Linked DNA regions of Homo sapiens: all the other regions are reported to be linked to region 1. The links are microRNA targets in miRTarBase. Many come from high-throughput screens and were not tested one by one. Region 1 holds a microRNA gene; each other region holds the end of a gene's coding sequence.

The links. The annotated mature microRNA hsa-miR-148a-3p reads UCAGUGCACUACAGAACUUUGU and lies in region 1 at 2,703-2,724, shown strand. An mRNA with a match to its seed (bases 2 to 7 or 8) in the 3' UTR can be bound and repressed. Matches are read on the target gene's strand: a 7mer-m8 pairs with bases 2 to 8, a 7mer-A1 pairs with bases 2 to 7 and ends in A, and an 8mer does both.
Region 2: the mRNA of PLPP4 is a reported target of hsa-miR-148a-3p. Seed matches in the 3' UTR shown: 7mer-m8 at 1,508-1,514.
Region 3: miRTarBase lists HLA-G as a target of hsa-miR-148a-3p. The part of its 3' UTR that is shown has no 7-base or 8-base seed match.

The regions. Positions count from the first base shown.
Region 1 is chr7:25,947,163-25,952,645 of GRCh38, reverse strand. It overlaps MIR148A (microRNA 148a), which reads left to right and starts at 2,660; the gene lies at 2,660-2,727. The region is part of intron 6 of LOC105375199 (a long non-coding RNA gene); the gene reads left to right. RefSeq lists silencers at 887-1,096, 1,217-1,436, 1,567-1,706 and an enhancer at 4,550-4,619.
Region 2 is chr10:120,589,305-120,593,545 of GRCh38, forward strand. PLPP4 (phospholipid phosphatase 4) reads left to right here. Exons shown (of 7, transcript NM_001030059.3): 7 at 1-2,761. The coding sequence ends at 198. Among named protein-coding and RNA genes, the nearest start is that of LINC01561, 6.5 kb to the right of the region's middle.
Region 3 is chr6:29,830,124-29,834,364 of GRCh38, forward strand. HLA-G (major histocompatibility complex, class I, G) reads left to right here. Exons shown (of 7, transcript NM_001384290.1): 6 at 255-287; 7 at 645-898. The coding sequence ends at 259. It also overlaps the pseudogene HCGVIII-2. Among named protein-coding and RNA genes, the nearest start is that of HLA-G, 4.4 kb to the left of the region's middle.

The DNA of each region.
Region 1 (5,483 bases):
ACCCGCGAATGGTCAGATAAACAAACAAGTGTGGAGAGGGAAGAGAAAGGAGAGTGGAGAGAAAGATCCTTGAGGATAAAACAGTTGGAAGGAGCAATGATTTATCTTTCCATAGGGGGAAATGGGGAGAAGGAAAGTAAATTAAGAAGAGTGGATGGGAAGAATTTTCCAGGTAAGAATCTTCCCATAAAAATGTATGTTTTTCTGTATCACCAGGTCAGACTTCAGATGCAACCATTATAAAGATGATACACATACTTTGTTACCTGAGGGAAAAAATAACTAGGCCAGTTCTCAGAAATATTTATATTTTTTAAAATGCAGTCCCCTTCTTTTTCCTTGGTGACTACAGGCCGGCATCAGAGAGTCCGATTTATAACATGGGCTCTACCTTTGCAATGCAGTTACTTTCTTTTCCTTGGGGAGAGGGAAGGAAGGAAGACATCCTGGTCACGTGGCCATTCATCAATTTCCCTTTCTTTCTAGAACAGCATCTTCTTTGGCGTGCTTGGGGAACCACGTTAAAATTGATTCTACGTGCCCGTGACCTCTTCTCAGGGAATTCTGAGCTCCCCCGAGTCACACCCCCATCTAGATGAGGAGAGGAGGACGTGTCCCCTGGTTCAGTCTCGGGTGCCCAGTACCCAGCAGACGTCAGGGTGGAGGCAAACCGGCCTTTCGGTTAGTCCTTGTAGACGTGTTAAAAAAAAAAATCCAGAACTGGCATTTTTACTACTTTTAGTTAGCTCTTTGGCCTCTTTTTATTTGGGGATGGGTGGTGGGCAGTTTATTAAAAGAAACGACTTTTAACCTTGATGAATTCTTGATTTTGCTTTGTCCTAGAATTCCCTTACCGGGAATCTCGCATTTAGTTCTCAACTCCCTGCCAGGGGAGGAAACTGTCCTCCCGAGGTTTCCATTTCGCACTCTGCCCTGCAGCAGCTTCGCCGCCGCCTCCTCCCCAGCCAGGAGACACCGGGCCCAGGCAGGGCTCCGGCTGGGTTTGGAGGAGGGGGCTCCGGGGAAAGCGGGCATTCAGGGGCATCTTGCAAAACGCGGGCTCCCTGGGCCCAGCGGGGCTGGCCGGGGACAGCGCCCGGCCCGAGTGTCGCGGGAAGCGGAACAGGCAGCCTGGCAGAGGCTGGTGGGCAGAAGGGCGGGGCGGGACGTCGAGCCAGGTGGCCACCTGGAGCGCCCCGCCCTCCCAGCGCCGGCCGCGCCCCCGCCCCCGCCCCCACGCGCCACCGCCCACCCCGCCCCCGCCCCCAGCCCCGCGCGGCCGCTCTATTTGCATAAGGAGGCGTCTCCCGGGCCCGCCCGGGGCGCACGTGACCCCGGGGGAGGCGGAGGGAACCTGCTGACTTGACACGAGCCGCTGTGCGGCTCCCCTTGGCGCGGAATAGCGAGAGCAGCCGTGACCTCCGACCCCGCCCGCCGGCAGCCAATAAGAGCGCAGGTCGTCTCCAAACCCAAAATTTCCACGTCGGCAAAAGTCAAGATGGAAGGGAGCGGAGCGGAGCGCGAGGGGGGAGCCGGCCCGGGAATGCCTGGCGGCCGGCGCTGGAGGGGCAGGCTGGGGAGCCTGCGGCGGGCGCACGAGGGGCCACTCGCGAAGGTGTCCCGGCCCAGCGCGACCACCGCCCCCAACCCCGGGAGCCTCTGGGCGCCCCGCACTCCGCCAGCCGCCCGTGCACCCCGGCCCGGGGGACGCAGCCCACTGCCCCTCCGGCCTTGTCTCTTAGGGGTGGCGGGGGATGGAACGGTGGCGAGGGGTTTGGGGGAAGATGGGAAAGCACTTTCCAGACCTGTTGCACGCGCGCAACAGCTGTTCAGGTGCGGTATGTGGGGGGAGGGGGTCTGCTAGGATGGGGGACAGAGTGGTCGCTTATGCTGCAGGGAAAAGGGGGTGCCGGGAGGGGGAGAAGAGCAGTCTTGGGGACTGTGTGCAAGGTTGTGCGCGAACGGGGTCCGCGGGAAGCACTGCCTAATGGGGCAGGGAGAATCCCAAAGAGTGGGTGGGTGGAACGGAGGGGATGGGACGACTTCGACCCGAGTTCCCGGGGCTGGGCGCGGGCGGCTGGAAGACCGGGAATAGAGTACTGGGAATGGCTGGGGAAGGGGGTCTCAGGGGAGGCCCCGCAAAGCGGGTCTTTCTTGGGTCGTCCCATCTTAGGGGCTTTTCCCGGGCCTGTATTTGTTCCCCACCGTTTAACTCTTTCAGCTCCGAATATTCGTCCTCGTGCAGCGCCCCCGCCCCCAGCTTTCCAGATGGGAAGGTAAAAAGTTGCCACAAGTTAGAGTGAGTTAGCTGCTGGCAAAAGTTTAAATAACTACCGAGGGAGGTGAGGGTTCGACCAGGAATGGGTTCTAATCTGAGGACGGGTAGGAAGGAAGGAGAGTGTGCGATTCTTGCAGCCCCTTTGCTGTGACATTGCGACCAGAATTTGTCGAATCGGGCTGTTAAAACACCATTTCTGTTGGGCATTTGCTCCTGCTGACTGCGGCAGTAACTTTCCATAATTAATGACCCGTTCCATTATCGGTCGCATCCTGAACTAAATTGCTTTTAACGAGTTATTCTTCTTTGTCTTAGCTGGGGGGTGGGGGAACACACCTGCAGGAAGAAACTTCTGGAGGAAGACAGCACGTTTGGTCTTTTGAGGCAAAGTTCTGAGACACTCCGACTCTGAGTATGATAGAAGTCAGTGCACTACAGAACTTTGTCTCTAGAGGCTGTGGTCGCCGATGCCGCCAGTGCTCCAGACGCCAGGCCGAGTGGCCCTGGTGGCCACGTCGCTGCGCCTTTCCCTTGGGGGAGGGGCAAGGCCAGAGGGGGTCCAAGTGCAGCACGAGGAACTTGACCAATTCCCTTGAAGCGGGTGGGTTAAACCCTGTAAATGGGAACAAAATCCCCCCAAATCTCTTCATCTTACCCTGGTGGACTCCTGACTGTAGAATTTTTTGGTTTAAAGAAGAAAAAAATAAAGCTTTGGACTTTTCAAGGTTGCTTAACAGGTACTGAAAGACTGGCCTCACTTAAACTGAGCCAGGAGAGCTGCAGATTTATTAATGGGTGTGTTAGTGTGCAGTGCCTTGCAGGAATTTAAACTCTCTACCCTTAAAGAAGGAAATGTATTTGTACAAAAGCCACAGATAATGGTCCTTTTACTCAAGCGACCTGCTGGATAAATGACAGCCTGCAGGGATTGAGTTTGGAGATCTAGTCTCAATTCTGCTTCCGATTTAGATGCAGTTCACTTTTGTTTTTTAAAGTAAGTTTTATTAATGGAAAGGAAGAACTTTTTCCAAGAAAGCATTTTGAAAGCCACTGGGGGAGGGGGACATTTATGCTTTTGGGCTGTGGAGATCCTTTAGGTGGAGAGACTGCTCTCTCATCCCTAGTGGAATGGAGGTTTGGGTTGGTGAGTTTCTATCAATAGCCTGCTCTCTATAGTGGGTCAGTGACTGGCACCAAATTGTAGTCCTGTTCCATGGACATTGCCCTGTTTTGGTTTTATGAGCTTTTGGCCAGGCACAGGACGCAGGGTGGTAGGGAAAAAAGGAAATGGTTCCTGTGCCCGTGGTGCTGACAGGTAAGGGAAGGGCCTTCTGATGTATTTTATGGGATGCTTCAGAAACCTGGGGGTTGCTTGTGTCTCTGGGAAGCCCTTGGTAAAGAAAGCCACCATTTTTTTTACTTAGGTATATTCCAGTGGTTTATCATCGGGAGAGGGATGATAATGGAGGAAGGCTCAATGAGGGAGAAAGTATTCAGCTGCTTGATGTTAGAGCTTAATGGCAGGACCTACCAGTTGCTTTTCACAGAAATGCTGTGTATTGATCCTAAGGCAGCATGTGTTCTCTTTTGTGTGGCCATTATCCATTCTCCCACTTTTCCATCAGTGACTGCTTTGCTTTTGTTCCTCAATCCTTTACCCAAAAATGGCTGAATTATTTCTGTGCAGTTAAATAAAGTGATCCAAACTCAAGTACGTCTTGTGTTCATTTGAGATGTAAGGTATGCTTACTTGAGGAAGAGGATTCTCTTTCCTAGTTCTTATGTCTGTACATCTCCACAAGATAGTCTGAATATACTGAATTTTAAGAAAACTTAAATCAACTTTGTAAGAGAATGGGAGGTAAAGAGTGGAGCGGTTGACTGGGAGAGTAGTCATCCATACAAAGGAATTAGGTCAGGATCTCTCACCTCCAGAGAAAGGCAAGGTTTGGAGTCCCTGACATGATTCAGTCTGGTTTGACTTCTATGCTTAAGTGATTTGCATTTCTCCTGTTTGTGACCACAAGTGAGTTAAGGACTAACCAAGCAGGAGGGCTGTGGTTTACTCTGGTGCTAAGGATGCCAGGAATAGGAACTGGGAAAATCGGCAGTCTTGGGGTGCTTACTGTAAACCTGGCATGGTCTCATAGACCTCAGTCGTTTAGCAATCAGTGTATTTTCACCTCCCGAGCATCAGGTGTTACTCTAGACGTTACGAATGCAACAGTGAACAAAATAGGCCCCGAACCCTGCCCTCTTGGAGGTCTTTCTCATGCAAGAGGTAGACAATACAAATATAAAATAATCAGAAGGGTGATAAACGTCAGGGAAGGAAGAACAAGGAACGCTGGGGAGGCCGTGGTGTTCATTTAACCCAGATCGCTGGGCAAAGGAAACCATCACTAGCAACCTACTTTGCATGGCCTTGGCACTCCTGTCTTTATTTTAGATACTTTATGTGAATGAACCAAACAGGTGCAGCTGAAACTTTAGTCATGCATTGCTTAATGATGAGGATAGGTTCTGAGAAACGTGGTGTTAGGCGATTTCATTGTTTTTGCAAACATCACAGAGTGAGTGTTCTTAAACCTGGGTGGTAGAGACTACCACACACTTAAGCTGTATGCCATAGCCTAGTGCTCCTGGGCTACAAACCTGTGCAGGATGGTACTGTACTGAGTGCTGTAGGCAAATGTAACACAATGGTAAGGATTTATTTAACCGTACAAAAGGTACAGTAAAAATACAATATAAAATGTAAAAAATGTTACACCCATATGGGACACTTAGCATGCATGGAGCTTGTGGGACTAGAAGTTGCTCTGGGTGAGTCAGTGAGTGGTGAGTGAATGTGAAGGCCTAGGACGTTACACTATTGTAGACTTTATAAATATTATAAACTTAGGCTACACTATATTTAAAAAAAATGCTATGACATGACAGCTGTGACATCATTAGGCTGTAGGAATTTTTCAGCTTCATTATAATCTTACGCGACTACTGTCATATATTTGGTCCATTGTTGACTGAAATATCCTTATGCAGTGCGTGACTATCACTCAACACTGAAAGCCTTTAATTTTTTAAAGAACATTTTAAATTTCAAATGCAAGGGTTGGGAAATATGGGGGGGCGTGCAGAGGAGCTGGGAAGCCATGGTGCTGGGTCACTGATTCCCCATTTTATATAATCTCCCACCACATCT
Region 2 (4,241 bases), not on the chromosome of region 1:
TCCTTTGTGGGTGGAGTCATCGGCCTCATTTTTGCATACATTTGCTACAGACAGCACTATCCTCCTCTGGCCAACACAGCTTGCCATAAACCCTACGTTAGTCTGCGAGTCCCAGCCTCACTGAAGAAAGAGGAGAGGCCCACAGCTGACAGCGCACCCAGCTTGCCTCTGGAGGGGATCACCGAAGGCCCGGTATGACCAGTGTCCTGGGAGGATGGACACTAAGCCCTGGGCACATCTGCCACCCTGACATCATAACACAATAGAAATGGTTTTCTGTAGTGTATTTTTCATCAGTTGTTTCTCAAAGTCATCGTACTTCTGCTTCTGTTTCACTGATGGTGTTCCTGCTACTTTAAATGTCTACTTCCAACATCCTTGAATTTGCAAGTGAAGGACAACAATCTCTGAGAGACGTGTGGAAGAGGCTGTGAAGGTGGGGTTTGGGGAGCTTGGCCGATTCGTCTATCTGAAATGTTTGCTGTAACAGCCACCTTCCTATGTTTTCATGGTTGTAAAACATAATAAAACCTCCCACGTGGAAGACTTGGTGTTGGCCACCCAGCGCAACAAGTCATTTGGAGATGCAGCAGGTTTCTCAGAGACCCAAAGCCAGCTCTGTCTGTAGGTCATTCCAGGTGCTGAGCTTGGAAGCAAAGGCTCAGAACCTTTCTGAGCCATCAGCTTCTCATAGCCCACGTCTCTAAAATAGATTTGAAACTTGGAGTGACAGCTTGAGCATTTCCAGGGCTTTTGAATCATTGAATCTGGAAGCAAATAAAATTAATAACTTCATGCACAGACTTCCACCAAACACAATGAGCATGAAGATGCATGAGTGCATGTGTGGGGGATGAGGTCACAGCAGTTGCCTGAGGGTTCATGGGCACAATATCCTTCCCATCTTCCAGTCTAAGTTTATGGAGCCACTTCTGTAGCTCTGCCTCATACAGTGAATTTTTGGGGCACGGGGGCTTTACTTGGCTCTTCTGCAAGAAGTGATGTGACCGATCTCACAGATCAGAAACCGCATGCCTGGGGCTCATCTCAAGGGAGTGGCTGAGTGGCCATTGGGGATAAGAAGCAACTTCAGGCTGAGAATTTTTCCCCTTTAGGATCTGAGTTTTGCAGAGCTCTGCTCTAAGGATTCTCCAAGTGGTGGTGTGTTCCTGTTCCTATCTAGCTGGCAATATTTCAGCATGATAGGACTCTGGTAGAAGGTACAAGAACAGAATCAGGAATGTGCTGTGTCTCTCGCTCAGCTCTTTGCATTGTTGAATACAGCCAGTCAATATGAACCTTTTTCAGTCTGAGTATAGAGCACGCTGCTCCTTGGCCAGCTAGTTTTTTCAAGGCAAGGAGCATCCCCTTCATCCAATTCTGATTGGATGTACCATGTGGTTGTTCAGATTCCTGGGCCTGGGTGCTACGAGGTGATGCATCTTTGCTATCCAGAGTGTCACTTTTTTTTTTTTTTTTTTGAGATGGAGTCTCGCTGTGTCGAGACTGCACTGGAGTGCAGTGGCGTGATCTTGGCTCACTGCAACCTTTGCCTCTGGGTTCAAGCTATTCTCGTGCCTCAGCCTCCCAAGTAGCTAGGACTACAGGTGCCCGCCACCACACCTGGCTAATTTTTGTATTTTTAGTAGACACGGGGTTTCACCACGTTGGCCAGGCTGGTCTCGGACTCCTAGCCTCAAGTGATCTGCCCACCTCGGCCTCCCAAAGTGCTGGGATTATAAGCGTGAGCCACTGCACCTGGCCAAGAGTGTTGCTTTTGGGCAGTTAGCATAACAGACTGCATTTTGAGAGACTCAGGTGGCTGCCTAAATGGTCAGCTTATCAGCCCTGGGCTGCGTGTGCAAGTTAGAAGCATCAGAATATCTTTGATCAGCCATTTCTGTTAAGCTCCATGGGCTTAAGCTTGGAGTGCATGTACCACTGACTATGCTCCATGAGCCCCAGTGCAGCCCTCTCCAGCCCTGGTCCTTCCAAACTGGCTTTGGCACGGTCATGTGATTGTCCCCTGGATGGAGTGGGAGAGGGGGAGGCTTGAATTGACTTTCATCCAAAGTCAAGCCATTGATTTTTTAAAAATTATAGCAGTTACATTGGCAAGCAACTTTGAAGATGAATGTGAGATATTTTAAGAGATAAATCATAGCAATTGAAAAGACATAATTTTAAATTCTGAGCTAAAATTCATTTAAAATTAGAAAATTAAACAATACTCTAATTTAACTAAAAACTCTATAATTTTCAAAAATAAAGCCCAAAATAGAAATGTAGGAAAAAGATCCTTTGCTACTGTTAAAAAAAAAAACCCCATCCTGATGTGGCCCACATTCTTATTTGATTCTAGTTTTATCTGAGCAAGAGGAAAGGAAAAGGGTTGTACTTCAGTTAATAAAGACTTAAAATTCTGGACCATCAAGTGTAAATTTAATATAAATAATTTTATTTAAAGATAAATGGCCAGGAAGTACTCTGCAAAGTAACAACAGAGTATTACTAATGCTGATAATTACATGGAAAATCCTAATACTGGCCATGTAAAAGCTTTGATTAAAATATAATTCAAATTACAGATGATGTAATAACATGAAGCTGGTGGTAGGATCCTCAGGAGCCATAATGAACAGTGTAAGCCAGTTCACAAAAGGCAGGCATTTTTACAGATCCTTATGTTTCAATTTCATGCTCTATTCACGTGAAGTAAATATAACATCACAGTGTACCAATTAAATGGCCATAATGAGAACGTTTATTCCTCAACCCCTGATTTTTTTTTGGATGTGGGGTTCCTAATTCAGTCTCTTTGGAAAAGCAGGTTACACACAGTGTGAAGAGTCCGAGCCCACCCTGGGAGCTGTGGGATGTCGGAATTTCTTCCTCTTTGAGTAAACTTACTCAGAGTCCATGTTAGAGATCGGCAGCCACAAGCTCAGATACCTTGAGGTACTAGGAAGAGAATACAGTGAATGAGGCAAGTGGGGTCATTAAGGAATAGTGGAGACTGTGGAAGACTAAAAGCACACACCCCAGGGAAGTGGTGCTGGAGTGCAGTGGCGCGATCCCTGCTCACTGCAAGCTCGGCCTCCTGGGTTCACGCCATTCTCCTGCCTCAGCCTCCTGAGTAGCTGGGACTACAGGCACCCACTGCCATGCCCGGCTAATTTTTTGTATTTTTTAGTAGAGACAGGGTTTCACTGTGTTAGCCAGGATGGTCTTGATCTCCTGACCTCATGATCCGCCTGCCTCGGCCTCCCAAAGTGCCTGGATTACAGGTGTGAGCCACAGCGCCCAGCCCAAACACATATTCCCCCAAGAGAAGTCAAGAATCTTCATTTTATATGAGATTGTTTGATTTTACCTTGGGCAACTGTTTCCATTGAGATACATTAGAATGCAACCAACAATACACCCCAGTGAAAGAAGCTTAATCAGTAGGGGTTTATTAAGATTAAAAATAATAAGAAATTGAGAGGTTGGTGGTCTCAAAGCCCCCAGGCTTTCCCATGCTCTTGCTCCACCATCTTCAGTATGCCAGTGATTCTCCCTCATGATCACAAGGTGGCTGCAGCATCTCCAAGAATCACATCCTCATCCCATCATGCTCAAACGAAGAAAGAAAGGAGCCCAGTCATGTGACAAGATAACTCTACTTGTCGGTCTGTTTATCAGGGAAGAAAATGTTTCCCAGCACCCCTGAGAAATATCCCCTTTACTTGCATTGGCTAGAATGATGTTGGATGGCCACCCCCAGAAGTCATGGGGGCTTGGAAGAGTGAATATCCAGCATTTTCAGTCTCTTTGCAGGAGAAAGATTCTACCTGCTTGGGAAAAGGGTTAAACAATGGCCATTGGGTTGACAATGAACAGCATCTGTGACAGCACCAAACTTGTTTAATTAAAACACAAAAATGGCACATCAGTCACATAAAAATGTAGAGCAGGCTGTTTGCAGTCTCCTTTAGGGCTCACATGTCTTCTTAGTGGGTTAGAATTTGAGCAGAAGAGCCAGCTCTTTAGTCAATCTATTTAGCCCTATTGAATTGCCCTTCTCCTAAAGAGCTTTTCTAGCTAAAGCCATGGTCCTTGTTGTCTGGGCATACTCCATCTTCCTGAAGCTTCTGGCACGTTCCCCTCAGCTTTACCATTTTGAAGATACTGTTCTTTTCCTTAAACTCACCGTTTTCTCACCTCCCATGACTTATCACTTAAGATATGTCCCATTCTTT
Region 3 (4,241 bases), not on the chromosome of region 1:
CCTTGATGATTGTAGTGATGGGGACCTGATCCCAGTAATCACAGGTCAGGAGAAGGTCCCTGGCTAAGGACAGACCTTAGGAGGGCAGTTGGTCGAGGACCCACATCTGCTTTCCTTGTTTTTCCTGATCCCGCCCTGGGTCTGCAGTCACACATTTCTGGAAACTTCTCGAGGGTCCAAGACTAGGAGGTTCCTCTAGGACCTCATGGCCCTGCCACCTTTCTGGCCTCTCACAGGACATTTTCTTCCCACAGATTGAAAAGGAGGGAGCTACTCTCAGGCTGCAAGTAAGTATGAAGGAGGCTGATCCCTGAGATCCTTGGGATCTTGTGTTTGGGAGCCCATGGGGGAGCTCACCCACCCCACAATTCCTCCTCTGGCCACATCTCCTGTGGTCTCTGACCAGGTGCTGTTTTTGTTCTACTCTAGGCAGTGACAGTGCCCAGGGCTCTAATGTGTCTCTCACGGCTTGTAAATGTGACACCCCGGGGGGCCTGATGTGTGTGGGTTGTTGAGGGGAACAGGGGACATAGCTGTGCTATGAGGTTTCTTTGACTTCAATGTATTGAGCATGTGATGGGCTGTTTAAAGTGTCACCCCTCACTGTGACTGATATGAATTTGTTCATGAATATTTTTCTGTAGTGTGAAACAGCTGCCCTGTGTGGGACTGAGTGGCAAGTCCCTTTGTGACTTCAAGAACCCTGACTCCTCTTTGTGCAGAGACCAGCCCACCCCTGTGCCCACCATGACCCTCTTCCTCATGCTGAACTGCATTCCTTCCCCAATCACCTTTCCTGTTCCAGAAAAGGGGCTGGGATGTCTCCGTCTCTGTCTCAAATTTGTGGTCCACTGAGCTATAACTTACTTCTGTATTAAAATTAGAATCTGAGTATAAATTTACTTTTTCAAATTATTTCCAAGAGAGATTGATGGGTTAATTAAAGGAGAAGATTCCTGAAATTTGAGAGACAAAATAAATGGAAGACATGAGAACTTTCCACAGTACACGTGTTTCTTGTGCTGATTTGTTGCAGGAGAGGAGAGTAGATGGGGCTGCGCCCAGTGGGTGCTCAGGCCACCATGAACTTTATGTGGTCACTGCTCAGCTGGGTCATCTTTGCTGCTCCATTGTCCTTGGCCCTTCAGTAGAACCTTGTCCCACCAGGACCTGTGATCACATAGACTTGGATATCACCTAGGATGGTCCCTACACGTAGAAGTTCCTGTGTTATCAGAAGAAAAATTTTCAGACCCCTACACCTCTTCCCCTCCTTCCAGGTCTCTTTCAATTGTATTTTCCATCTTTTTTTTTTTTTTTTTTTTTAGATGGAGCCTCACTCAGGCTGGAGTGCAGTGGTGCAATCTCAACTCATTGCAACCTCCACCTCCCGGGTTCAAGCAATTCTCCTGTCTCAGCCTCCCTAGTAACTGGGAGTACAGGCACATGCCACAATACCCAGCTAATTTTTTGTATTTTTAGTAAAGACGGGATTTCACCATGTTAGCCAGGATGGTCTTGATCTCCTGACCTTGTGATCTGCCCGCCTCTGCCTCCCAAAGTGCTGGGATTACAGGTGTGAGCCACCATGCCTGGCTTCCCCAACCTTCTTAAAGGAAGCAGATTCTGAAACTTCCCGAGAGGAGAGGTCCCAGAGTTTTTCATTGTAGTTTACTTTCTGTTGGAACTCCTCTTCTGCTCTCTCTCCTACTCTTCTTCCTGCCCTGAGTTGTAGTAATCCTATTGCTGGCTCCAAACCAAACTCATGGATTTGTAAAGCAGAGTCTAATTTAGATTCATATGTGGTTGGATAATTGGAGCCATAAGCCTTGGGTTATCTTTCCTCAAGAGACAAATATGGTTGTGTGCTGCAGTGTGCAGGAGGATTGGTGTGGGAGGAGGGAGGGAGGGAGGACACAAAAGCAGCCCTGGTGAGAAAAGCACTGGTGCATTTATATCCACATGAGATAATATTGTTCCACAGCGGCTACAAAATGACATTTGGCCTGAGTCTACATTAATAAAGATATTGCCTTTAGAATAGGGGGGCGCACTACAGTAATCATCCATTCAAGTGGCATTTGTTGTCTGCTAGGTATTTGACTGTTTTTGCATTTAGAAAACATCGTTAAAGTAAAAACAGAAAAATTTCTGGCCTTGTCGTGTATACATTCTAGATGCAAGCTTGTCCAACCTGCAGCTCTCGGGATGCATGTGGCCCAGGACAGCTTTAGAATGTGACGATTTTTTTGCTTATCTGTAGTGGCAGATATCATGAAAATTATCCATGCATTTTTTTTCTTTTTTCTATTTTTTTCTGCTCATCAGCTGTCATTAGTGTATTTTTTGTGTGGCTCAAGACAATTCTTCTTCCTATGTGACCCAGGGAAGCCAAAAGATTGGACACCTCTGCAGGCAGATGATATAGTATAAGCAGAGTAGGAACAGAAAATGCTTGAGTTAGAAGGTGGCAAGTGCTGTGTGGCAGGTGATCCAGAGGGTGGGCTGTGGGTACAGGGAGGTGGCTGTTGTGCTGGGTGGTCAGCATGGGCCTTGTTGCAAATGTGACCTTGGAGTAAAGATTTGAGGGATGTGAGGAGTTGTCTACACGGATGTCTCAGAAAGTTCTTTTCAGGCAGGGAAACCTTCAGTGCAGATGCACTAGGGCAGGAAATTGTCTGTGTTCCTGGAAGGAGGAAGAGGCCAGAAGTGTTGAACAGAGAGAAACTGAAATGAAGTCAGAGGTGTGCCCAGAGCAGGTTGCCCTGGAGGGTGTGGGAAGGATGTTGACCTTTGCTCTGAATGACATGGGGAGTTAGAGGACAGTTTTGGAAAGTGGGACATGGTAGGACTTATCCTTTGAAAGCTTCTCTCTGGCTGCTGTGCTGAGAACAGAATTGAGAGGTGGGGGACTAGTGAGGCAGTGGGAAAAACGGTGGGAAAGGAGTGCAGTATTCCAGGATGGAGACGTCGCTTACCTTGACTGGGGTGTGAGCAGGGGAAATAGTGGGAAGTGATGGGATTCTGGATGAATTCACAGCACTTGCTAATGGATTTATCTGTGGTGTGAGAAAGAAGAATCAAGGACACCCACAGTATTGGACTGAGTGAGCAGAAGGGTGGAGCTGCTGTCAATGGAGATGGGGAGACTCTGGCAGGAGCATACAGAGGAGAGGGCATTGCAGGCATCCAGTGGAGGTGACATCTACGAGGAATGAAGGTGAGGGGCCCAGATGCCTCTGCAGCTACAGATTCATCATCCAATCACTATCCTACTTCCACCACCCCTGTGTCTCAGAGCCAGAGCATTGATTCTCCCCTGTGCTGTCTGCACAGGTAGGTGAAAGTCAGGGAAGTTATGGTCTGCTGTTGGTTATAATAAGTCACAGATTATTGTGCTTTCTCAGATAATTAAAGAAATAATAAGAGAATTTGTAACTAGAACACTTACTGAGAAGACCACAATAATGCAAAGTTTTTTATTCATCTAAAGAAGGCAACAGAAGAAAAATAGTTGAGCAAGAAAGATAATATTAGAAGGCAGTAAATGAAAATGGACAGACTTAAACCCAATGAGGTCAACAATGACATTAAACGTAATGGACTCAGACACTCCAATTACAAGACAAATAGTGCAGAGGGATAAAAATAAATAAGTAAATAAATAAATAACCGTAGGCTATTTACAAAAGCCATAATTTCAGTAGAAGGTACAGAAAAGTTGAAAGTAAAAAGATAGAAAAGAAATACCAGACAAACATTCATGAAAGACCACATGGAGATGCCATTTAGAAAAATTACAGCACATGAGTCTCCTGAGACATAGAGTACATGTAGACAGCTCACAGTGTCTTTTTCCTTTTTTTCAGAGACAGGGTCTGTTGCCCAGGTTGAAATGCAATGGTGATATCAGACCTTACTGTAACCTCAAACTCCTGGGCTGAAGCAATTCTCCTGCCTCAGCCTTCTGAGTAGCTAGGACGAGAAGCCTGTGCCGCCACACCTGGCTATAATGTCTCATTTTCTCATTTGCTGTGGTGTGAACAAGGAAACAATATCATACCATGTATTTGACTTGCAGCAGGTACACAACAAATGTCAGGTGAATGAAGAAATAAAACCACTTAGTAATCCAAGCCATATCCACATTTACATTTTACAGGTGAGGAGCAACATCCCAGACAAGTAAAGTAAAATAAATTGATTTACATCATCCAGAGCAGAATCGAGAACACATTCCC